7 linked regions of the Homo sapiens genome follow. The protein of the gene in region 2 purifies or fractionates together with the protein of the main gene of each other region. This does not show direct contact. Each region holds a gene or a part of one and is shown on either strand. Other genes may lie near its edges. The genes, in order: DHX30, RRP9, NOL6, UTP15, PWP2, DCAF13 and UTRN.

Region 1 (3,500 bases), 4.1 Mb from region 2:
AGGCGTACGCCACCAGGCCCGGCTAATTTTTGTATTTTTAGTAGAGATGGGGTTTCACCATGTCGGCCAGGCTGCTCTCGAGCTCCTGACCTTGTGATCCACCCGCCTCAGCCTCCCAAAGTGCTAGGATTACAGGCCCTCATGCCTGGCCCTCTAATACCGTTGAAGAAACCTCCTCCACAGCTGCCGCTGGTATTCTCTTCCATCCAGTGTCCCTGTCTCTGGTCTTGCCAAAAACTACTGCTGTCAGTGATTTTCCCTAAAAGCAAACTTGGCTGTGTCATTCTATCAATTACCACTAGTCAGAAGCCCTGGCAGCCACAGGATCAAATCATTCTGCCCCTGTGACAGTGAAGGCCCTGGAGTTCTAGCTCCTCCCTGCCCGTCTACCGCATGGCCCAGCAGGCAGACCCACATTCATTCTCATTCCCCATAGCCACGCATATTCACCCGGGCTCTAAGCCACATTGGCCTGAGTCTGGAGTGCCTTGCTCCAGCCCTCGGCCCTGGCAAGGACCATTCTTCAAGAATAAGCCTCTTCTATTTAGGAGGCTGGGGTGCATTTATGTCCTCCCGTGGACACCTTCTTCTTGGCTGTGGCTGCTGACTCAGTCCCCTTTGTGCTGCCAGCACGTCTCACCAAGCCTATGGGCAATGCAGAAAAAGACATCTGATTTGGGGGGAAAGGGAAACGCTGAAGAACTGGGAGTACAGCTATTAGAGAATAAAAGGCTGAGTTCTAGAATAAAAAACAACTCCTATAACCACAACAAGATCTCATCTCACACCCATTAGGATCGCTATGATCAAAAAAACAAAAACAACTAGGCTGGGCACGGTGGCTCACACCTGTAATCCCAGCACTTTGGGAGGCAGGCAGATCGCGAGGTCAGGAGTTCAAGACCAGTCTGGCCAATATGGTGAAACCCTGTCTCTACTAAAAATACAAAACTTAGCTGGGCGTGGTGGTGCGCACCTGTAGTCCCAGCTACTCGGGAGGCTGAGGCAGGAGAATCGCTTAAACCCAGGACGTGAACGTTGCAGTGAGCCGAGATTGCGCCACTGCACTCTAGCCTGGGCAACAGAGCAAGACACCATCTCAAAACAAAACAAAACAAAACAAAACTATACACATAGATGGGGAAGAGAAAAAGAGATGGAGAAAAATGTGATAATGACCTGCTTCAGACAGGCTGGGATGGCCGGGCACAGTAGCTCATGTCTGTAATCCCAACACTTTGGGAGGCGGAGGCAGAGGCAGGCGGATCACCTAAGGTCAGGAGACTTTGAGACCAGCCTGGCCAACATGGTGGAACCTCATCTCTACTAGAAATACAAAAATTGGCCAGGCGTGGTGGCAGGCACCTGTAATCCCAGCTATGAGGGAGGCTGAGGCAGGAGAATCACTTAAATCCAGGAGGCAGACAGAGGTTACAGTGAGCCAAGATCACGCCATTGCACCATTGCACTCTAGCCTGGGCGAAAGAGAAAGACTCCATCTCAAAAAACAAAAGTCTGAGTTTAAAGTGCCTTCAAACATCCAGCCAGCCAGTCAGCCAGGCAGAGAAGGATTTCTCAGCTTCAGCATAATTGCTATTTTGAGCAGGGTAATTCTTTGCTATAGGGGGCTGTCCTGTGTACTGTAAGCTGGGAAGAAGCATTCCTGGCCTTGATCTTACAGCTGCCAGTAGCACTCCTCCACCTGTGTCCAACGAAAATCCCTACAGACATTGCCAAATGGCCCCTGGCCACTCTCAGCACTTTTTTTCAACATAGTACTAAAAGTACTAGAAAGTGCAGGCAGACAAGAAAAAAAGGCATCCAAACTGGAAAGAAAGAAGTAAAATTATCCCTGCTTACAAATGACATATCTTATATATAGAAAACCCAAAAGAGAGCCAGGCACAGTGGCTCATGCCTATAATCCCAGAACTTTGGGAGGCTGAGGCGGGTGGACCACCTGAGGTCAGGAGTTTGAGACCAGCCTAGCCAACATGGTGAAACCCCATCTCTACTAAAAGTACAAAAAAATTGGCCGGGCGCAGTGGCTTACACCTGTAATCCCAGAACTTTGGGAGGCTGAGGCGGGTGGACCACCTGAGGTCAGGAGTTCGAGACCAGCCTAGCCAACATGGTGAAACCCCATCTGTACTAAAAGTACAAAAAAATTGGCCGGGCACAGTGGCTCACACCTGTAATCCCAGCACTATGGGAAGCCGAGGCAGGCAGATCACCTGAGGTCAGGAGTTCGAGACCAGCCTGACCAACATGGAGAAACCCCATCTCTAGTAAAAATACAAAATTCCAGGCGTGGTGGCACATGCCTGTAATCCCAGCTACTCGGGAGGCTGAGACAGAACTGCTTGAACCCAGGAGACGGAGGTTGCAGTGAGTTGAGATTGCGCCACTGCACTCCAGCCTGGGCAATAAGAGCGAACCTCCATGTCAAAAAAAAAAAAAAAAAAAATTAGCCAGGCATGATGGCACATGCCTGTAATCCCAGGCACTCGGGAGGCTGAGGCAGGAGAATTGCTTGAACCCAGGAGGCAGAGGCTGCAGTAAGCCGAGATCGCGCTGCTGCACTCTAGCCTGGGCAACAGAGCAAGACTCCATCTCAAAAAATAAAAAATAAAATAAAAAATAAAGAAGTTCCTCAAAAAATTAAAAATAAAACTACCATATGGTCCAGCAATATCTGCTCTGGGTATATACCCAAAGGGAATGAAATCATCAGCTCATAGGGATGTCTGCACTCCCATGTTAACTGCAGCATTATTCACAACAGTCAAGATACGGAAACAACCTAAGCATCTGTCAAAGGATGAATGGTACATATACACAACAGGATATTATTCAGCCTTTAAAGAAGAGGAGATCTGGCCAGGTGCAGTGGCTCATGCCTGTAATCCCAGCACTTTGGGAGGCTGAGACAGGTGGATTGCTTGAGCTCAGGAGTTCAAGACCAGTCTGGGCAACACTGGAAGACCCCATCTCTACAAAATTAGCCAGGTGTGGTGGCGCACACCTGCAGTCTCAGTTACTCCAGAGGTTGAGGTGGGAGGATCTCTTGAGCCCTGGAGGTGGAGTCTGCAGTGAGCCATGATCGCACCACTGCATTCCAGCCTAGGCCACAGAGCAAGACCCTGTCTCAAAATAAATAAATAAAAGTAAAAACATGGATAAACCTGGAAGACATTATGCTAAGTAAACCAGACACAAAGAAAATACCACATGGGCCAGGAGTAGTGGCTCACACCTGTAATCCCAGCACTTCAAGAGGCCAAGGCGGGCAGATCACTTCAGGTCAGGAGTTCAAGACCAGCCTGGCCACCATGGCGAAACCCCATCTCTACAAAAAATACAAAAATTAGCTGGGTGTGGTGGCACATGCCCGTAGTCCCAGCTACTCGGGAGGCTGAGACATGAGAATTGCTTGGACCTAGGAGGCGGAGGTTGCAGTGAGCCAAGATCACGCCACTGCACTCTAGCCTGGGCAACAG
Region 2 (2,988 bases):
TCCCAGGGTAAAGGATGGTGCTGTGGTGATGACAGTCCTGGTGTGTCTGCCTGGTGGGTCCTTGGATCTGATCCAGACTGCCCCCGTCATGTCTGGGGATAGTGTCACCCTTTCTGCTCTCTTGTGTCGCATCTCTGGTTTCCGGTATCCCTTGCCTTTCTCTTTCCCAGTTTACCCTCTTGTTTGGGAGCACAGCTTCTATCCTTCCTAAAGAAAAAGAGGGAGAAAATTCCATGGCACCTTGCACACCTGGCAGTGTCGTCGTTGATTGTTTGACTGGGCATGGCATTTTAGGGGTCAGTGTATTCCTCCAGAGCTTTGTGTGTGAGGCTTCTTTGTCTTCTTGTTCTCAGTATTGCTGTTGAGATGCCTGCACATTTTGATTCCTGACTCTTTGTATGTGACCTGATTTCTTTTGGAAGCCTGGTTTCTCTTGGAAGCCTCCTCTTTCCCCCAGAGTTGAGAGGCTTTAGTGATCTCTTTGGGATTTGGGTCTGTTTCCACCCCTACGTGGGGCACTGAGTGGGGCCTTTTAGTTTGGGGAGTCACATCCTTCAGTTTTCTGCAGTGTAGTCACCGACCATGTGGGCTAGCAGGGAATAGGGGAGGTTGGATGGCAAGGTGAGCATCCAGAAGGCACGATCCTAGCGGTCAGAGGAACAAGGTGAGCCCCTCAGACCCAGCCCCTTCCTGCCCACAGCCTAGCTCCAAGGAAGCCTGAGGAGGAGGAGGAGGAGGAGCTGGAGGAAACTGCACAGGAAAAGAAGCTGCGCTTGGCCAAGCTCTACCTAGAGCAGCTCCGTCAGCAAGGTGAGCCAGTGGGCAGGCCAGCCATGGGCAGGGCTTCTGCCTGTGCTGGTCTGCTGCCCGCCGCTGCAGCCCCAGCCACTTGATGGGTGACTGACATGGATTCCCAGTGGGTGCCCAGGCTGTCAGTGCTGGCTGCCCTGTGGGGGTGGCCAGAAGCTCTCATGGGCCTCCTGGGGAGCCCGCAGGGGGCTGATCTGATAAGTAAAGGCAGGAGGAAACCCTCCAGCTTGCCCTCCCCTCTGCTGAGGCAGCTGGAGCTTCCTGCATTATCCAGCCCTGGGGCAGTGGGATGGGGACAGGATGGAAGGGAAAGAGGGGTCTCAGCCTCAGTTTACTTGGTCTGGTCTGTCCTGCACAGAGGAGGAGAAGGCTGAGGCCCGTGCATTTGAGGAGGACCAGGTGGCGGGGCGCCTGAAGGAGGATGTGGTAAGTGTGGAGGGAGAGTTGGGGGAGGACGGGGGTGGAGCTGATCTGCTCCCAGGGTCTCATCCATCTCTTCTCCATGCAGCTTGAGCAGAGGGGCAGGCTGCAGAAGTTGGTGGCAAAAGAGGTGAGTGGGCATGGTATTTTGGTATAAGGTTGGAGGGAATTGGGGGCCCCACTTGGAACATGGTGGACACTTGGGCCTATCTGGTCAGGTAAGGATCTGGTTGTTGTAGCCTTGGGTCTTGTTTTCCTTCTGGCCTGGGTGGGAAAGGCCAACACTACGCAGTGGGGTTGGTGAAGGTAGTGCCTTTATGCCACTAGCCACAGTGACCTGGCCCCTGTCTGCCCAGATCCAGGCCCCAGCCTCAGCTGACATTCGCGTTTTACGGGGGCACCAGCTCTCTATCACATGTTTGGTCGTCACCCCCGATGACTCAGCCATCTTCTCTGCTGCCAAAGACTGCAGCATCATTAAGTGTGAGTGAGTGCCTGGGTGGGGCTGGAGCCCCCATGGCGGATCCGGGAGGGCTGGTCAGGGGAGTGGGAGTGGTCATGGCAGGCTGAGCCCTGAAGTGGGGAAGTCTCTGGAGGCAGGTTTGCTGCCCTAGGAGTGCTCTCTGGGTGACAGTGAAAGCTGCTGCCCGGCAGTGGGGCTTATGAGCTCCCTGTCCCTAGAGACCTTTGGGCAAAGTCAGGATGATGATTTAATGGGAATTAATGCTGCAGGTAGGTGGTTGGACTAGAAGACATTTGAGGCTGTGCAGTCCTGGGATTGAGTGCCCGGTCCTCCTGGGTTCCCATCCGTTGCTGGCTGACCAGCGGTTCCTTCTACACCCGCTGTAGTAACAGAAGAACTCACACCATCAATCCCAAAGCCCTTTTACATCCCTTCTCTTTTTTGGGCTTTGTGGCTGCTGTTTGGCACTAATGTCCCTCTTCATAGATGAGGAAACTGAGGCAGCTTGTCCGGAGGCTCACGGTGGCTGAGCCAGGTCTTCTGGCCGAGTCCGGGACATTTGCCATGGCTCTTTTTTCCATGCTGCCCCTTGAGGGGGGTTGCCAGCCAGCCCTATCCCCCCATCCCAGTAGCTTCTCCCCCACCCCCAACTGCAGGGAGCGTGGAGAGTGGACGGAAGCTGCATGTGATTCCTCGAGCCAAGAAGGGTGCCGAGGGAAAGCCCCCTGGCCACAGCAGCCACGTCCTCTGCATGGCCATCTCCTCCGACGGCAAGTACCTTGTAAGGCCAGGTTGGCCCTGGGGGCAGGCGGGAGGTCTGGTGCATGGTGGGTGCCTGTGATCATTGTCTTCATCCCTGCAGGCCTCTGGTGACCGCAGCAAGCTCATTCTCATTTGGGAGGCCCAGAGCTGCCAGCACTTGTACACCTTCACAGGACACCGGGATGCAGTGTCGGTGAGGAGCTGGGTCTATGTCAGTGGATCTTTAGTGGGCACATGCTAGTGTTCTAGGCTCAGTGCTGGCCTCTGGAGTCTCTGTCCTCAGGGAACCTGCATCCTGGGGTAGCGAGTGGGTAGCGAGTGGTGCTGTAAAATACATAAATGGGCTAAAGGGATGGGGAGGAGCTGGGGGAGACCGGGCCGAGCTTGCTCAGGAATCAACGAGGGCCTTGAGAAGCCGCCTCTGGGCGGGATGTAGCGGCTCTTGCCTATAATCCTAGCACTTTGGGAGGCCGAGATGGAGGATCATCTGAGCCCAGGAGATGGAGGCTGCAGTGAGCTATGATCGCACCACT
Region 3 (3,500 bases), on a different chromosome or scaffold from region 2:
GGGGTACAGACACATCAGACTGGAACTGAAGTGGGTCTCTCCCAGGTCAGGCTGGGCCTGCTTTTTCCTTGGGAAGAAAACCACACATTAGGGGGCAGGTATGGGGTTGAACCTGGGCTGAGGGTCCATCCTGTGTCCACACAGAGTTTTTGCGGTCTTGGGGGGTAACAATGACCATGACGGGGAGCTGTGCCCGAGCTGCCAGGAAGCCACTGCGGATCTCCACCTGCTCCTCCACTAGAGACAAGAATGGGTCCTGGGTCAGCCTGCTCCTCCCTGTAAGACACCCTCTACTCCCCCAGGTCCTCCTACGGTGCCCCCAACGGCTGCTCATCACAGGTATTTTTCAACACTCCCCCCCACCAAGTGGCAAAGGTGACGAAAGGGACATCGCATTTGCCTCAACTGGGTGGGGCATTAATCGCCCAACCTCAGCCCAGAGGCAAAATTTTCCACTGCTTGGCACCCCCAGTCTGGTTTCCGGGCCTGCACAAGCTGAGTCTTGCCCCTGGCCCCCTCCCACCATGGGCTTCCACACACCTGGGGAATTAGGAACCTGACACCCTGCTCTCTGCAGAGACCGAGTGCCTCACGTTACAACCAGAAATCACCACTCCCACCCCCACCAAGAGGTCTGAGTATCTGTGCTACACTTCCTAGCTCCGTGCCCTAATACTTCTTACGTGGTATTCAGGATCCCCCTTCTATTCTCCTCTTCCTTCCACAGCCCCCCGCCAGGTAGCTTGCTTACCACCCTATCATTCTGTCTCTGACAATTAAGAGCAAACCATGTCATAATGGTCAGGCTGTTCACCTGGACCTCTTCTTCATGTCAGGCTTAGACATCTGGGGCTGGGGAGGCACAGAGAAAACCTAACACTGCCAGGGAAACCCTTGCCTGCAATCCATAAAGAGCTGTTCTTCCAGCAGTCTGACCCCTGTTCTACCACTTACCAGTGAGCTCATTATTGAGGTTGACAAAGAGGGGGTTGTTCTTCCAATCAAACGTTGATACCAAGAAAAGGAATCGAAGGAAGCCAACCTGGGGGGAACTAAAGGGCTGGAGTAAGCAAAGAATCCAGGGCCCAGCCACATATCCCCAGGCTTCTCTCAGGCTATGGAGCTCAGACCCCCTGGTGTGGATTGGCAGGGCAGGGCATCTTAGAACCCCTTCTGCCACTTGCTCAACCACCCATTCCCATGTAGACTTAGGGTGCAGCACGAAGGATGATGGCTGGCCGCAAGGAAACTTCTCAGCTGGGGAAAAAGTGGAGGGAATCACCTCGGAGGGGTGAAGGGCTCAGGGTGCAGGAAAAGGGCAGCGGCCACCAGATCCAGGCTCTCATCAGCGAAACCCTCACCAAGAAGCTGGGCACGCACCCACCGCTTGGCCAGCCGTGCCACACCAGAGAAGGCTGGGTGCTGCTGCTGCAGTCTGCAGAGAGAAGGGGAGTGTCAGCGAGACTCAGGGCCCCACTGCCACTGTTCATCCAGCCCCTACCCAAGGCCAGCCTCAGTGATAATAGGTTACATATGTAATCTCATATTCTCTTAAGAAATGCACCAAGAAGTTGACCCTAGTGTTATTTCCATTTTACAGATGACAAATATAGGGACCAAGGAGGAAAATCTGACCATAGGGTCACAGTCAGTAAGTGGCAGAGCCAGGATTCCAGAACCTGCCTGACTCCAGAACTCATACCCCTAACTATGATACCATCTGGCCCCTGGAGAGACAGGTGGCTAGGTGAGGAGAATGGGGGCAGGAGGGGGCCTACAGACAGGAAGAAGCTGTGTCAGTGGCCTTACCCGTGCAGGGCACTGGTGAGCAGTGGCAACTGCCTTGTGTCTCTCTCAAGGCGGAGGGAGGCAGCTGTGTCCCTCAGCGAGATCATCCCCTCTGGGCTCTGCACCTCCTTCAGGATCTGGGGCTCCCGCTGATAGGCCACGCGAATCCGAAACACAAATCCATCCTGTTGGAAGAAGGTATGGAAAGAGAAGGATGTGTCAGCCCAGAACCCCGGGAGTACTCTGTGGCCTACAGCCCTATTACCCAGCGTGGTACCCACAGGGGTGTCTTCTTCCACGCCCTGACATCCCTGGTGCCCCCCTTCCCTGGGGACATATCTGCCTGCACCAGCCTAACCTTAAGGACATCCGTGTGCGTGGCAGTGGCACGGCACTGCAGACCATGCTGTTGTGTCAACAGCTCTGCCAGGCGCAGCTGGAAGGCAGCTCGGACCCGCTGCACGGCCTCAGCGTCCTGTGGCCACTGGCCACTGCCCTCCAGGTGACAAACCACTGAGGAAGAAGAGTCAGAGGTCTCATACTGTGGCCTGGAGCTGGAACTATCCCTCCCACTCCCTCCCAAGGGCCCTCTTACCGGTCATGGGCTCCACGTAGGCCGGACAGGGCTTATCGAGCCGGGGCAGCAGTGAGGACCGCTCCCGCAGAGTCTCATAGAAGGAGAAGGCTGGACGGACTGGAGTTGGTGGGAACACCTGTGGAAGAAGAGGGGCTGAGGAATGGGCCTAGGACTGGGAGGGAGTGCCCAGAGTCAGGAGTTGGAAGTGGGGAATACTGGGTGACTGGAGCAGAGGTGGGGCCACTAAGCAGAAAGGTCACCTGCACCGTTGCACCTCACCTCTGTGTAGCGCAGCACTGGGTGAGCTCCCTGAACAGCAGACACGGTCAGTGGGAGACCCTCTAGCCCCCACAGTAGGCGACTGAGGTCGTCGTAGCAACGTACCGCCGCTACCAGGGCCTCCTCACCTGTGCTGGAGGTCTGAGAGGGAGAAGACGGTCAGGAGGCTGGACCCTACAGAAGGCCAGCTTCACCTGGATTCTGCCCCAGCTCAGGCTGCAGCAGAGCCAGCACCGCCGCCTGCTGGACATGCCAGGAAGTGCAAGCTGGCCAAGGCTGAGAGGACTCTCTCCCCGCAGATTGATTACTCTACAATCACTAGCCTTGACCCCAAGACCCTTACCTCTTTCAGGCCTTGGATAAGTGCATCCAGGGGGCCCCCCACATAGTGGACACAGGTTTCTGGGATGTCAGCATGGCTGAAAAAGAGGCAGAGACACAGTGAGAAAATTTGGGGCTATGTTCTCGCTCAACTGCCTGGGCCAGACCCCTGAAAAGGCTCCCCAGCCCACACTGCCTTCTGGAATCCAGATGCCAACACTCACAGTGCCAAGAGGTGGGTGACCACCTGGTGGGGAATAAGGCGCTTCTGGGACATAGAGGCTGCCTCCCAGACCACAGCTTCCCGAATGGCTCCGTCCTGGAAACGCCGAAGCTCCGAGCGGGATCCCCAGAACTGGCGGAATTTAGCAGCCTGAGGAGGCAAGGGTGGTAGTAGAGCTGGGGAAGGAAGGGCTCTGTGGACCCTCCCCAACAAGCTTCAGTCCAGGTGCCATGAGGACGAGCCACCCCATTCCTTCCAGTGTACATGCTGGGGTCCCCCACCTCAGGCTGGTCTGCCTCTGGACCCAGCTCA
Region 4 (3,500 bases), on a different chromosome or scaffold from region 2:
ATGGAGTTTCACTCTTGTTGCCCAGGCTGGAGTGCAATGGCGCGGTCTCGGCTCACCGCACCTTCTGCCTCCTGGGTTCATGTGATTCTCCTGCTTCAGCTCCCAAGTAGCCGAGATTACAGGCATGTGCCACCATGCCCGGCTGATTTTGTATTTTTAGTAGAGACAGGGTTTCTCCATGTTGGTCAGGCTGCTCTTTAACTCCCGACCTCAGGTGATCTGCCCACCTCGGCCTCCAAAAGTGCTGGGATTACTACAGGTGTGAGCCACCGCACCCGGCTAATACCTTTTCTTTACTCCCAAGTTTGATCTTCAGATGACAGTGGCTCATGGTCTGTCCTTCTGTTTTTTTTTTTTCCTTTTTTTCTTTTTAAATTTTTGAAACAGAGTCTTACTCTGTGGCCCAGGCTGGAGGGCAGTGGCACGATTTCGGCTCACTGCAACCTCTGCCTCCCAGGTTGAAGCAATTCTCATGCCTCAGCCTCCTGAGTAGCTGGGATTACAGGTGTGTGTCACCACACCTGGCTAGTTTTTATTATTTTTGGTAGACATCGGGTTATGCCGTGTTGGCCAGGCTGGTCTTGAACTCCTGGCCTCAAGTGATCTGCCCACCTTGGCCTCCCGAAGTGCTGGGATTACAGACCTGAGCCACCACACCCGGCCCTTCTATTTTTTTTATAAGTGGCTAGTCAAAGTTTTTATACGGATGTTATAGTTAGGGCTGGTATACAGCTCTTTTTTTTTTTTTTTAGACAGAGCTTTGCTCTTGTCGCCCAGGCTGGAGTGCAGTGGCACAATCTTGGCTCACTGCAGCCTCCACCTCCCAGGTTCAAGCAATTCTCCTGCCTCAGCTTCCCAAGTAGCTGGGATTACAGGCATGTGCCACCACGCCCAGCTATTTTGTATTTTTAGTAGAGATGGAGTTTCACCATGTTGGTCAGGCTGGTCTCGAACTCCTGACCTCAGGTGATTCACCCACCTTGGCCTCCCAAAGTGCTTGAATTACAGGTGTGAGCCACCGTGTCCGGCCTACAGCTCATTTTTTAAGGGATTCAGTGATGAATTAGTTTGTAATTAACATTACTAATCTTTGTTTTTCTTCACTGTTGTACAGATTTTAATGTTTGTATTTTGTTTTCAGAAAATAGAAATTTGCATTTTATACTCGTTTTCAAGGTGATTTTTGACAAAGCTTTTCCTTTTTATTAGGAAGGTGAAAGTATACAGCACAACTTCCTACAAAGTAGTCCACAGTTTTGATTATGCAGCTTCAATTTTGAGTCTTGCCCTTGCAGTAAGTACCTTTACCTATTTTTAAGTCTGTCACTAACCCTGCCTGTTAAATGAAACTAAAATGGAACTTTGGGCTTTATTTTTAGATTTGAGTAACTTTTCTTGCCACATCAGATATTTGAGTTAAGACAATTGCTGGAATATGTAACTCGTCCTATTGACTCAGCATGAATTCAGATTTAGGTCCCACTCACTGTAGAACTTCAAACTAAATACAGTGCTCTAGGCATTGTTAACATTAAACGCAGGACCTGGGAAGCTGGTAAATCTCTCTTCAACTCATTTAACTCAAGAGTATTATAGTACACTAGAAAGGCAGATTAGCTCTCTGAGCAGAAAAAAAGATGTGGGGAGAAGGGGACAACAAAATGAAATATCTCCTTTTCTTTGTTACTGCTCTTTCTGAAATGTATACTGTCAAGTTTTATGAGAAGCCACATTTGGGCAGGAAGGCATTTGACTATATTATATAGAAATCTGATTTGGGAGAGGAAAAGCTTATTAAAAATATTTTTGGGGGGCAAGATCATAAAAGTCTTGCTACTGTGTAATCTTTGATGCCGTTAACTATGTATTATACAAACTTTGCCAGTGATATTTTACAAGTATAAGTTCTGTCAATGTAGTTGTATCCTAAGGAAAAAATGATTTCGCTTTAACGTCTTGCACCAATCATCGTTAGGCAGACTATGTGTATTTGAATGGAACTGTTGGTGAATGTATGGACAAGCAGCAAACACATGGTAAATGTGTTTTGAAGTAAAAGTACTATAAATTACGAGTTAAGAATAGACTAACTTATTTTTCTAATTGTTATTAGCATGAAGATGAGACAATAGTTGTAGGAATGACCAATGGAATACTGAGTGTTAAACATCGGAAATCTGAAGCAAAGAAGGAATCACTTCCCAGAAGAAGAAGGCCTGCATATCGAACCTTTATTAAAGGAAAAAATTACATGAAGCAACGGGTATTTGTGCATTTCTCATATTTGTTTAAAGGGTGAAATTTGTTAGAGTAGCCAGCTTCATCCCTGCACATTACTGGAAAGCGTAGTTCACATGGCACTTTATTTTGCTTTTCTCTACATCAGAATTATTTCTAGATTGCTAGATTGGGGACATTATTGATGAGTAATGGGGAACAAGGACTACTTTATGTAATACTCTGCATCATAACATAATGTTATAATGCTTTACTGCATTCAAAATAATGTCTTTCACATACTACCTGATTTGATCTAAATCCCAAGAAGTAGTAGAACCAATCATGTCCCTGTTTGGCACCTGAGAAGACTGAGCGACAAATAATTTGTGATTGATTCAGGATTTCATTACTGGTATCCAGAGTTGTTGAGACTAGATCTCATTATCTCTGATTGTTGTTTGATTTCTCTTTCTACTGTACCACACTGCCTGCCACATAAAGAGAATTGAAATGAGTAATTTTTACCTAGAATTAAGGCAATGGTGCATGTTGTAAGTTAAAATTATAAGAGAGTAAGAACATGTTGATGTAGCAAGTTACTCCTTTTTTTTTTTCTTTTTTTGACTCTGATTAGCAGGATGCATTTTTATTTAATCTACATTATGGGCATATGAACATTATTTGTGACATAGTTCAGAGATACCACTTCATTATGAAAAAGTTTATATTAAATGTATATTTACACAGATGCTGATTTTCCTTCTCTATAAATGTACTTTTCATTGCAGGATGACATTTTGATTAACAGGCCAGCAAAGAAGCACCTAGAATTGTATGACAGGGATCTGAAACATTTTCGGATCTCTAAGGCACTCGATAGAGTTCTTGATGTGAGTGAGCATTTTTTAAAAAATCATGTTATTACTTACCCTGCATATTACCATGACTTGGAACTGTGAAGATAAATATTATTCAAACTTGATAATTTAGTGCAAGACAGTGATTTTTTTTGTGCTGTTTTGTCTACTCATGTTGACTTTGAAAATTTTTCTAGCCCACTTGTACAATAAAGACACCCGAGATTACGGTGTCCATCATAAAGGAGTTAAATCGAAGAGGAGTCCTTGCAAATGCGCTTGCAGGTCGGGATGAGAAGGAAATCAGTCATGTTCTTAATTTTTTGATAAGGTATGTTTTTTGTCTGTGAAACACTTACATTTTGCATCTGAAATCCTTTATCACCAAATAAAAGACATTTAGTTTGATCTTTGTAGAGAACT
Region 5 (3,500 bases), on a different chromosome or scaffold from region 2:
CTTGGTATATTGTCCAAGCTTGTCTTGAACTCCTGGACTCAAGCAATCTTCCCAACTCAGCCTCCCAAAGTGCTGAGATAACAGGCGGGAGCCACCATGCAGGCCTAAAGTTGGTTTTTAGGAGCCATACGCTGAGGTTTCCGTGGTGGCCACCGTAAGTCCATGTCTCCTCTCCACCCAGGGCCTTCACCGCCCTGTGCTACTCTGCAGACGGCCACAGCATCCTGGCGGGAGGCATGTCCAAGTTCGTGTGCATCTACCACGTCCGTGAGCAGATTCTCATGAAGAGGTTCGAGATCTCTTGCAACCTGTCTTTGGACGCCATGGAGGTGAGCCGCCAGCGCGGGGCCGGATGGATGTTGCTTCCAATGCAGGTGGAATGCGTCGGGCTCCTGCGTTCTGCACTCCTGGCTCCATGGGGCCTTGGGCACAGTTGTGGTGCTTGTCCTGTATCTAAGTGCACGGGCCCCTCACCTGCCCCAGCAGAGTCCGGCCGTGAAGCCAGCACCTGCCTCAGCTGTGTGTGGAGCCACGGTCCCCAACCCTTTTGGCATTTGGGACCGGTTTCGTGGAAGGCAATTTTTCCACAGACAGGGTTGGGGGGATTGATTTTGGGATGAAACTGTTTCACCTCAGATCAAGATCACCAGGCATTAGATTCTCAGAAGGAGGGTGCAACCTAGATCCCTCACGTGTCGTTCACAATAGGGTTCGCACTCCTGTGAGAATCTAATGCTGCCACTGATCTGTCAGGAGGCGGAGCTCAGGTGGTGATGCGAGCAATGGGGAGCGGCTGTAAATTCAGATGAAGCTTCACTCATTCACCTGCCCACCACTCACCTCCTGCCGTGCAGCCTGTTTCCTAACAGACCATGGGCCAGTACCAGGGGTTGGGAACCACTGCTGTGGATGACCCTGCCGAGGCTGGTTGCTAGGAGGCTGGAGCTGTGAGGGGCAGTGCCCAGCACACGCTGGCTCAGGAGACACGGACATCTGTCAGGGAAGGAGTGAACGAAGAGGGTGCTGGTAGGCCCTGCCCGATGGCTTCCTGCCCGGGGTCCTGTGTACAAGGCTCTGCCTTCACTGTCCCCACTGGTGCCTGCCCTTCCCCCTCAGCACAGCCCTCGGCTCAGGTCCCACTCACATGCTGGCTCCTGCAGGACCTCAGAATGAGAGTGAGGAAGCCCTGGTAGCCTCTAAGCAGGGGTGTGGCTGCTGGGTTCACCTGTCCACGCCCCATCGGGGCAGAAGCCCACTGTCCCCTAAATGTTTCTGGGGGAAAGTGTCCTTGGCATTTTCACAAGGGAGTAGACGGCCATCCTCGCTGTGAGCCCCAGCCTTTGTGATGGTGGCAGCAATGCCAGCATGTAGACCTCAGTCCATCCCCCTCCGCAGCCTCCGCACCTGCCCTGCTCCACAGCTTCCACACCCACCCTGTCTGCAGCTAGCTCTGCAGGAAGAGTCCCTGGGGCACTGCAGGGCTCTCTCCCCGTCCTTGTTCTAGACAGGGCTGAGGCTTGTCTGGTGTTGGGGTCAAAGAGCAAGGGTAGGAGACGAGGGCCAGGCGGCCAGGCCATCAGAAGCAAGGCGTCCACTGCTTTTGCTGTTCTAGGAATTTTTGAACCGAAGAAAAATGACAGAGTTTGGCAACCTGGCACTAATTGATCAGGATGCTGGGCAGGAGGATGGAGTCGCGATACCACTGCCAGGCGTCAGGAAAGGTGAGCAGAGGTTCCTCCCGCATCTGCCCACCACTCACCGGTCCTGGGTGACCACGCATTCATGCCCCTGGTTGGGGCTGCAGTGTGTGGAAATAACAGTTACTACATGGTGACATTTGCTGGACACTGGGGGTGTCAAAGGCCCAGTGGGTTGGTGCTGGTGCCGTCAGCCCCTGGGCAGGAGAAGCTGCCCATGTGTTGCTACACGTGGCCTCCCTGCCCTGGCGGGACCCGTCCATTTGCTCTTGGGACTGGGTGCCCCGTCTGCTGCACAGCACACGGAGCATTCTGGCGTGAGGCCATGTGCGCCGCACAGAGAGCCAGGTGCTCTAGAAGATCTGGGTCCCAGGTAGACCATCCTGATGGGACACTCGCCAGCCAGAAACCCTGAGTGCTTCCATATGCAGGCCCAGGGTACCGTGTTGAGCACAGCAGACCCACTCCTGGGCTGGGCTGGGGCCCTTTTCTGGGTTGGACACACAGTCTGCTGGCCGGGCTGGCTTTTTTGAGCATCTGCCCCATGGGCTGGGCCATCTGTTTGGCAGCTCACCCGGAACAGCCTCCGCGGCCCCAGCACGGGCCCACCTGCCGCAGCTGCAGCGAGGGAAGGGCTGCTTCTGCCTCCGCTTTGTGCAGGACCCAATGAGTAGAGGCTGCTGCTCTTGATGGGGCTCCCACAGCACCCCCCAGCCAGCCGGGAGACCGCAGGATGACTTGCTTCGTGGGGAGAGCAGCCTGGATATGCTGTCCAGTGATCATTAACGGTTCTTTTTTCCCCAGGTGACATGAGTTCTCGGCACTTCAAACCTGAGATCAGGGTGACCTCACTCCGCTTCTCTCCCACTGGTGAGCACTGAGCCATGGGCTTTTGGTGCCGGTGGGCACTGGGGCATCTGTGCCATAGCAAGGCTGGCCACCATGGAGCTGTCTGCAGGCTCTGGGCTGTGCCCTGTGCCCCTGGGTAAGAACATGGCCCTGCAAACCCTGCAGGCCACAAGATGGCTGTTGTCCCTGAGGATGGATGGCTGTCACGGTGCCAACCTCAGATGCACTGAGCTTTGAAACATGGCAGGCCTGGTATGCCCTTGCTCTAGCAGCTCCCCGAGTGCCCTGGACGTGCTGCCTGGGGGCGGCTCTGCCATCACGGAGAGCCCGTCTCCTGCGCACTGCCCCCATCCTCTCGCAGTGGGGAGGAGGGTCTGTGCCACAGGCCTGTGGAGCCTGGCGGTGCACATGGTCCCCACACAGAGGAGCCAGGAGCAGGGCTATTGGCAAGCGTGCTCCAGCCTAGACTGAGTGTCAGAGCCAGGGGCAGAGAGGCCCATGTGAGCCAGGGGTCTGTGCCCTCGGGCCCAAGGGCCAAATCTGGCTGGCCACCTGCTTTGGTCACTGATGTTTTACTGGGACATTTTACTGGGCGTTTTTTTGTTGGCGGATCCTTCTGGCTGTCTCTAGTGATCCGTGCAGCACTGAGTAGGTGCAGCAGAGACCACAGGGCCTGCGGAGCTGAAGACGCCTGAGCTAGACAGAAGACTTGGCTGGCTCCCGGCGTCAAGAGAGGAGGACGCATGCGTGTACATATTTGCTTATATGTGCATCCCTGGGAGAGTAACTTCTGGGATGATCCATTCATTCCTTCCCAGGGGAGTAGTGGGGTGGGGGCTAGAGGCAGACGTCCCGGTTCCTCCTGATTTTTGCACTTTGTCCCAGGGGAATGTACTTAATACTGTTTCTTTAAAAAAAAAAAAAAAGAAAAAAAATGTTGGGAGGAATGAGCTT
Region 6 (3,500 bases), on a different chromosome or scaffold from region 2:
CACAATGATGAAATCGCCCAATGACTCATTTCTCAGAATGCATCCCCATTGTTAAGTGACATATGAATATAAATGGCTTACTGGTAGGCACATACCTGCTTCGACTTTTGTCTACAGGAAAGATTCGAATAGATTTATCGAAACTAGCAGACACAAACTCCTTCCCAGTGGGAGAGTAATCCACATCAAGCACTGCAGATACATGATCCATATGGACCATTACAGGAGTGTCCAGTGCACGCATATCAAAAGTATATAAGCTGTAAAAGAATTTTTAAATATTTGACACATATTTCTAGAAAGATGCCATATGCAGTACTAAAAGATACCACTGAAAACAAGAACCATTTGCAAAACAATGCACATCTAAACAAAAAGCTCAATGCTGTACACAAGCAGGTGAGGGATAAGGAAAAATTTCAACAGTTTTTATGATTCCTTAAGACTCCACTTATATATATACCAACACATTTTCCACCCTATAAATCTCATTGTAGAAAATGTGGAAATTTCAAAAAAAGTAGAGTACAAAAATTACCTTGAATTCTACTACCCAGAGGCCAGTTATTTAGTACAGCATAATTTTTTAAAAAACCTTTTTCACCATACTATTTAAATACATACTTTTAATAAAATTGAAATGTTATGTAAAGCTTTATATTCTGATATTTCACGTAGCATATTAATGAGCATTACCCATGTTATTAAACAATCTTTGAAAATATTTTAATGGCTGTATATATAAGTTCAAATAATTTATTTCCCTATATTTTAATAGTTTCCAACATTTTATTATATATAATGCTTATTAAATTCCCAACGTTTGGATTTTTAACATTCAATCTTTAACTGAATGGGACAGGTTCAATTAAATCTGGACAGATTCCTACAAGTAGCATTGTTAAGCTTAAAGGCATGAGCATTTTTAGGCTTGATTTGAGTTGCCAAATCACTGCCAACAAAGTTGCACTAATTTATACTCCTACTGGTGATATGTAAGAGTGAACATGGCCTTTCAAAGGGTGAATCAAAATGAGAAACTATACTTTATGCACAATTGGTAAAAACAATGACTTCATGAGTTTCAAGATTCAAAAATTCTTAATCTAATGGCTAAAAGAATAGTGCTTCAAATGAACCAACATGAACAATGGACAAAAGTAATACAGCAATATTGTGACCAAGTTCCTAATATAAAAATACTTGAAGATGCTAAGATTAGTGAGTAGAAGTCTGAGAAGAGGATATCTACATAGTTTCAAAGTATCTCCCCAAAGATATATAATAATTACAAAAGGAAAAAAAAGTAACTCTTTAGTGGAGAAACCTGGCAGACACCACCCTAACCAAATGATCAAGGTTAACATTACTAGTAGTAAGACATTGACAACTGCTTTACAGTTCCTGCCTAAGAACAGTGGTTTTCAGCTAGGTTTGCTTGGTTCCAGCAAACTGCTTTTTAGTAAGATGCTTTATTTCTACATGGGAAAAATGATAAGAATTCCAATTCTAAGCATATCAATTTGTGTACATGGAAAACCTTTAAATAAACAAAGTTCCACATTATAGGATTCATTAGGGATCATCTATTCTAACCCTCACCTTACAGATGCTGAAACTATGATATAGAGTTAGTTTAAATGACTTGCCCAAGTTTATACAGTAATTACTGGTCGGCCTAGACTTGAACTTAGGTTTCTAATTCAGAATGACTAGAATATCTAAAGGGCAATAAAAGAAAAAAATACTTACAAATATAGAAAAGGGATACAAAAGCAAGATCATTTTCAAAGAGCAATTATGATACTCCAACAGTCACTTATTATAAGGGATATGCTCTTTGTTTCAGGTGGCATATGCAATTCTTTTCAAGGCAAGGAATGAGAAATTCCGAGGACACTCTGAAAAACGGTACCTTGCTAAAATAGCTTATTAGAACATTCTTTAGAAATCTTAATGAGGTTGGTCACAATAATGCTGTATTACTCTTGTCTTTTATTGCCTTTAACTGGAACAATGCCACTTAATTTCAAAACATCAATAAAGGTTAAAAAAAAAAGCTTCAATTACTGTGGTTTGGTATTGCTAGTTAATGAGAGTCTAACTGAGCTTCTTTTATTTTTTTAAGACACCAGGGTCTTGTTCTGTTGGCCAGGCTGGAGTGCAGTGGCCCAATTACAACTCACTGTAACCTCAAACTCCTGGACTAAACCTCTTTTTAGCAGAAAGTCATAAAAGATGCTTTTAGTTGGTACCACTAAAACATCATATAATAAATCCTTTTATGAGCTAACACTACTACTTTTTTGCTTCCAAATCTACATAGTGGAACATAAAACAATACAAAGATCTAAAGTTCAATCCACCAACAAACTTCTGCCTTCTTAAAAAAAACATGTATTAAGAATCTATCAAAGGCATAGCGCTATAATAAATGCTTTGGGAAAAAAAAAGATAAGATACTCTTTCCTCCCTGGGAGACTAATCTCCCCGCTTTAATATCTTAAAAAGGGGATAACATGCATGTCCCACCTACCTCATATGGATACTGAAAAGATAACTATAATTTTTCTTCCATCTGACTGAACAGTGATAGCTGATAACATGACCACATGAGCATCAGCTACCTGATACTCACCGCAATACAAACATTGCAGGCAGATATTTTCATTTCCATTAAAACATGTATGGTTCAGTCATTATTTATAAGACCTACATCAAACATCAGCCAACTTCTTCTGTAAAGGGCCAAATGTTAAACATTTTCAGGCAAGTGGGCCATAAGGTCTCCGCTGCAACTATTCAACTCAGGCATTATAGCACAAAAGCAGCCATATCCAATATCTAAATAAGTAAGTGGGTGTGGCCATATTCCAATAAAACTTTATAAAAAACAGGCAACAGAAAGGATTTGGTCCACGAGTTGTTTACTGTCCCTGGTCTACATCATTCTAAATACTGACGAAATAAATACTTTTCTAAGAAGTTCTTCTCCAATTTGGAAAACTTTTTAAAGCTAAACAGATGACAGTTTTCAAACTTTATAGGTATACCTACCTAGTGGTATATATTTTATTAGTACGACTTATACAATTAAGCCATTCATGATAGAAATACACAAGTTTTTAAAAGAGGGAAACTTACTTATAATCTTCATTTGCTGCTGTAAAAATGAAAGCTTCCATAGGGTTCCAACAGATTGTATTTGTTCTCATATCTAAGATAACCTGAGAAAGGAAGAATGGATGAATTTCCCACTTCCTTTCCTTTTCTTTTCCCCACTGATTTAAGCAAATATTTCATAAACACCTATTATGTGTAAAGTACTCAGCTCAGTGCAATGGGAAGAGAAATCAATCAGTAATTGCTTCTTAAATACACAGGCAGAATAGTAAATATAAAAATAGAAATGCTTAACTCCCAGTCTCCTAATCTCAAACAACTTACAGTTTAGTCAGAAAAATGTGACACATAATAAAAGTTAAAATATAAACAATAAA
Region 7 (3,500 bases), on a different chromosome or scaffold from region 2:
AAGTATGGAGAACATGAAGCCAGTCCTGACAATGGGCAGAACGAATTCAGTGATATCATTAAGTCCAGATCTGGTAGGTAAAGGAAGCTCAAGAAAGCTATGGATTTTTATGTATTTAGAAAACCTATGTTTCTTGGATTGATTTGCATTGTTCTTGCAAGAACTTCTTGGAGGTGAAGTTCTTTTAAGAAACTGAATTCTGACAAATGACTATAATTTTGTAAAAGGTATATGTAAAAGGTATAATATCTCTGAGTGTCCTATCCTTTCTCAACCCAATTTTGTGCTTAGTGAAACTGCTGCTTGTAGCTAAAGGTTGTTCATTTGGAAGACTACTCCATTAAAATAAAATACGACCGAACATTTCTCTTTCTATTTTCTGGAAATTGAAGGGATTATATGCTTAATGTAGGAAGTGCCACAGTTTCTGGCAGGAAAGATCTTTCACAGTTTGATTTCATTACCATATATCCTCACCCCCATCCCTGTTCATAGCCATTGATAGGCCAACAGGTGTCCTACCTTGAAATATCTTATGAGCCTTCTCAAGGTAAAATTTTCACCTAGGTAATCTAATAAACCAGACTCAGACAGATTCATGGTTTTCACACGAACAGTTAAATTGGGGTCCTCAGGATACCACCCCCTCCTCCAATCTTTTTATATAACCGAGTGCTTTTTGACTCTGGCTGTACAGATGAATCAACTGGGGAGTTTTAAAAAACGCAGATGCATTGGCTCCATTCCAGACCCATTGAATAAAAATTTCTGTATTTTTAAAAAGCTTCAAATATGATTCTGAGACAAACTCAAAGGGGAGATATTTTTGAACAGGCAGAACACTTCTCAGCCTTGAAAATTACACAGAACTCCACCCTGAGTGTGAACACTATACTTAAGTAACTTTGAAAAGTTACTTTGAGGTATAAAATTACATCCAGTGTCACTTTAAAGACAAAAAAGGAACCCAAAGCCTGTTTTTGCTGTGTGAACCATCTTTATGTTCTGTTAGGAGCTTGTTTCTTATTATGTGAAACTGTAGAAATACACAGTGAAAATAAGATCTAAATTAACTGTCTTAAAATACACATTTTCCTCCATGATACCGGTGTTGGTTGATTGATAAAGATTTTAGTTATTACAGATTTGGCTGTAAATATGTAGCAACTATTGTGTAGCTTGACGGGTCTTTTGAAGGTATAGCTTAATATCTTGTTTTAAAATATGCTTTGAGGATGTTCTCTTCCTGTAAAATTCTTTTTGTTTTAAATGTTTTAGTGGTATAAGGTACTACAAAAATGTAAGGGATTATTAATATCATCTTAGGAGTACGGAATACATATTCAGACATATGTAAATATAACAGAGGAAAATGGAAGAGAGACGATTTAATGTCTCCATACTAGTCATTTTCTATAAATTGTGAGGAGGTATATTCCTAAATAGTTTTCTGAGTCAGCCTTCATTCTAGTAAGACCTTTGATATTTATAACTTGTACTTTAGCCGTGTCCATAAAAGAGTAATTATCTAATTTCAGAAATACCGTGTATATATAATGAACATATAAACTCCCAAACTATTTTAATTTAAAATTATCTTTTAAAAAGGCTGATGAACCTAAAATATTGCTGGAGAACAATTTGGCAAAAATGATAACATGTTTTTAACACATGCATATCAATTAACTGAGTAATTCTGTTTCTAGAGTTTTTCCCTAGGCAATACATAAAAAGGTACACTCAAGAAATTGATCACAGTATCATTTATAATAGAAAACATTGTAAACACCATGAAAATCTAATATTAGGAATTGGTTAGATCATTATTTCCCAAAGTATTTCGAAAAGATCAAAAGTTCTAGGATTGTTAATGTGTAATTCACAAAAGGATGTTATGGTCAAATAGCTTTAGGAAATAGTTGTTTAAACCTATTATTCTGTTTCTTTACTCTAGCACATCTGAACAGATCATACATGATCTCAGTAGAGGTAACTAAATTAGGGTATATCCATAAAGTAGAAGATTAAGCATTCATAAAAAGTGATACAGATGTGTGTGATGTGTGTGTGTGTGTGTGTGTGTATGAATATAGAAATGTGTTCTTGATATAGTAAGTAAACAAGTATGTATTATATGAAGTCATTTATATGAAAAATGTTTTTTAAAAATTTAGTGAAGTATACAATAAATGTTAATAGTGGTCATCTTGGCATTTGAGATTATTACTTTTTTTTTTGCTGATTTATATTTTCTAAAGTTCTTCAATGAACCCACATTACTGAGTTCTTATATTTTTAAAGATTATCAAATTGCTTAGAGTGTTTAGATGCCAAGGTTATGACTATTACTTTTTTTGTGGTGGCATCTACTTCAAAACACACTGAAAATTTAGTTGTTACATAGCTCAGATATGAATCACATTCTTTTGGCTGAATTATGTTGCAAAAGCCAGTAGATAAATTTGGATTTGAATGGACCCATTAGTCCCAATCTGGCTTCCTCTAAGGGACTTTTTTTGATTCTTTTAAGGCAAATGCTTACTATACAGAGGTAATATTTCATGGTACTCTAAAACTTACATATTTTAAGAGATTTTTAGTTTAGATTAAGTCATAGGAATTGTCTACATATCATATATGTATTTTAAAGATCCTCTGTCTACATGCTGTATGCCAAATTGGTTGCTTTTCCATTTTTTAAAAGGGAATACTTTCCTTTAGGAAAATTTTGATCCTCATCTGCTCTTCCAGGTTTCTTTTTTGGGGGGAAATTGGATGAAAGTGGGGGGACGGAGAGTGTGGTTTCTGCTCTCCAAATCCTCGAGTTTGGACAATCCAAAAGGCTGGCATAATTAAATTGGCATAATAAAAATGTCTATGCATTTTATGTTAAGTTATTGTGATTATTTTTATTGTCCTCACTTAGTATTACTTTGTTTCATGCCATTTTGAATATTATAATTTTTTAAATTTTATAATTTTAAAGCCATTTCTACCATCTAAACAGAAATAGGAAGTTGTCAAGGGTACGTAATGAAGTAGTTTCATAAATACAAAGCCATGTATTTATTTATGGTTGTAGTATACTTGCCTTGGGTTTGGGTGAGTGTTAGAAAGGAACTGGAAAGAATTTGATCTATAATGACCAAGGATTTGGTGTTGGGTAAAAGTAGACCTGTCTTTCTCTAACTTAAAAGCACATATGCCAAGTTCATCATCAAGTACTGTATTATTAACAGCCTTAATTAGTAGGCTTTAGAAAGTTCAACAAGTTAGTAAATATTTTGAAACAATAGGCCAAGACTAAGAATTTTTAAAAAGTGAAATTTATTGCCAGTAGAGTGTGTGATGCAGAAAGTACTGCTTGGAACATTTTAAACATGAAATAATAAAATGGTTTGGGATGCATATACAATCGAAGAATATCCTCACTGCTATTTCATTCAATAATTAACATACATTAAAGCTAGTAACACAGAATAAGTCATCCTTTTCTGTTG

Evidence for each region.
Region 1: the proteins of RRP9 (region 2) and DHX30 purify together in Homo sapiens (affinity purification with mass spectrometry; one large-scale study listed by BioGRID and IntAct). This does not show direct contact.
Region 3: the proteins of RRP9 (region 2) and NOL6 fractionate together in Homo sapiens (co-fractionation; one large-scale study listed by BioGRID). This does not show direct contact.
Region 4: the proteins of RRP9 (region 2) and UTP15 purify together in Homo sapiens (affinity purification with mass spectrometry; one large-scale study listed by BioGRID and IntAct). This does not show direct contact.
Region 5: the proteins of RRP9 (region 2) and PWP2 fractionate together in Homo sapiens (co-fractionation; 2 studies listed by BioGRID). This does not show direct contact.
Region 6: the proteins of RRP9 (region 2) and DCAF13 purify together in Homo sapiens (affinity purification with mass spectrometry; 2 studies listed by BioGRID, with this or other methods). This does not show direct contact.
Region 7: the proteins of RRP9 (region 2) and UTRN fractionate together in Homo sapiens (co-fractionation; one large-scale study listed by BioGRID). This does not show direct contact.

The regions. Positions count from the first base shown.
Region 1 is NC_000003.12:47,834,138-47,837,637, reverse strand, and holds part of DHX30 (ATP-dependent RNA helicase DHX30), read right to left. Parts: intron 1-3,500.
Region 2 is NC_000003.12:51,935,917-51,938,904, reverse strand, and holds part of RRP9 (U3 small nucleolar RNA-interacting protein 2), read left to right. Parts: intron 1-700; coding exon 701-810; intron 811-1,168; coding exon 1,169-1,236; intron 1,237-1,318; coding exon 1,319-1,360; intron 1,361-1,586; coding exon 1,587-1,713; intron 1,714-2,349; coding exon 2,350-2,474; intron 2,475-2,555; coding exon 2,556-2,648; intron 2,649-2,988. UniProt on the Homo sapiens protein: Component of a nucleolar small nuclear ribonucleoprotein particle (snoRNP) thought to participate in the processing and modification of pre-ribosomal RNA (pre-rRNA).
Region 3 is NC_000009.12:33,463,925-33,467,424, forward strand, and holds part of NOL6 (nucleolar protein 6), read right to left. Parts: coding exon 3,470-3,500; intron 3,339-3,469; coding exon 3,190-3,338; intron 3,064-3,189; coding exon 2,988-3,063; intron 2,786-2,987; coding exon 2,645-2,785; intron 2,502-2,644; coding exon 2,384-2,501; intron 2,302-2,383; coding exon 2,147-2,301; intron 1,974-2,146; coding exon 1,810-1,973; intron 1,436-1,809; coding exon 1,283-1,435; intron 1,053-1,282; coding exon 955-1,052; intron 238-954; coding exon 113-237; intron 1-112. UniProt on the Homo sapiens protein: Part of the small subunit (SSU) processome, first precursor of the small eukaryotic ribosomal subunit.
Region 4 is NC_000005.10:73,575,743-73,579,242, forward strand, and holds part of UTP15 (U3 small nucleolar RNA-associated protein 15 homolog), read left to right. Parts: intron 1-1,209; coding exon 1,210-1,294; intron 1,295-2,113; coding exon 2,114-2,263; intron 2,264-3,008; coding exon 3,009-3,110; intron 3,111-3,274; coding exon 3,275-3,408; intron 3,409-3,500. UniProt on the Homo sapiens protein: Ribosome biogenesis factor. Involved in nucleolar processing of pre-18S ribosomal RNA. Required for optimal pre-ribosomal RNA transcription by RNA polymerase I.
Region 5 is NC_000021.9:44,124,399-44,127,898, forward strand, and holds part of PWP2 (periodic tryptophan protein 2 homolog), read left to right. Parts: intron 1-181; coding exon 182-329; intron 330-1,612; coding exon 1,613-1,721; intron 1,722-2,501; coding exon 2,502-2,567; intron 2,568-3,500. UniProt on the Homo sapiens protein: Part of the small subunit (SSU) processome, first precursor of the small eukaryotic ribosomal subunit.
Region 6 is NC_000008.11:103,432,386-103,435,885, reverse strand, and holds part of DCAF13 (DDB1- and CUL4-associated factor 13), read right to left. Parts: intron 3,228-3,500; coding exon 3,145-3,227; intron 261-3,144; coding exon 96-260; intron 1-95. UniProt on the Homo sapiens protein: Part of the small subunit (SSU) processome, first precursor of the small eukaryotic ribosomal subunit.
Region 7 is NC_000006.12:144,291,835-144,295,334, forward strand, and holds part of UTRN (utrophin), read left to right. Parts: coding exon 1-73; intron 74-3,500.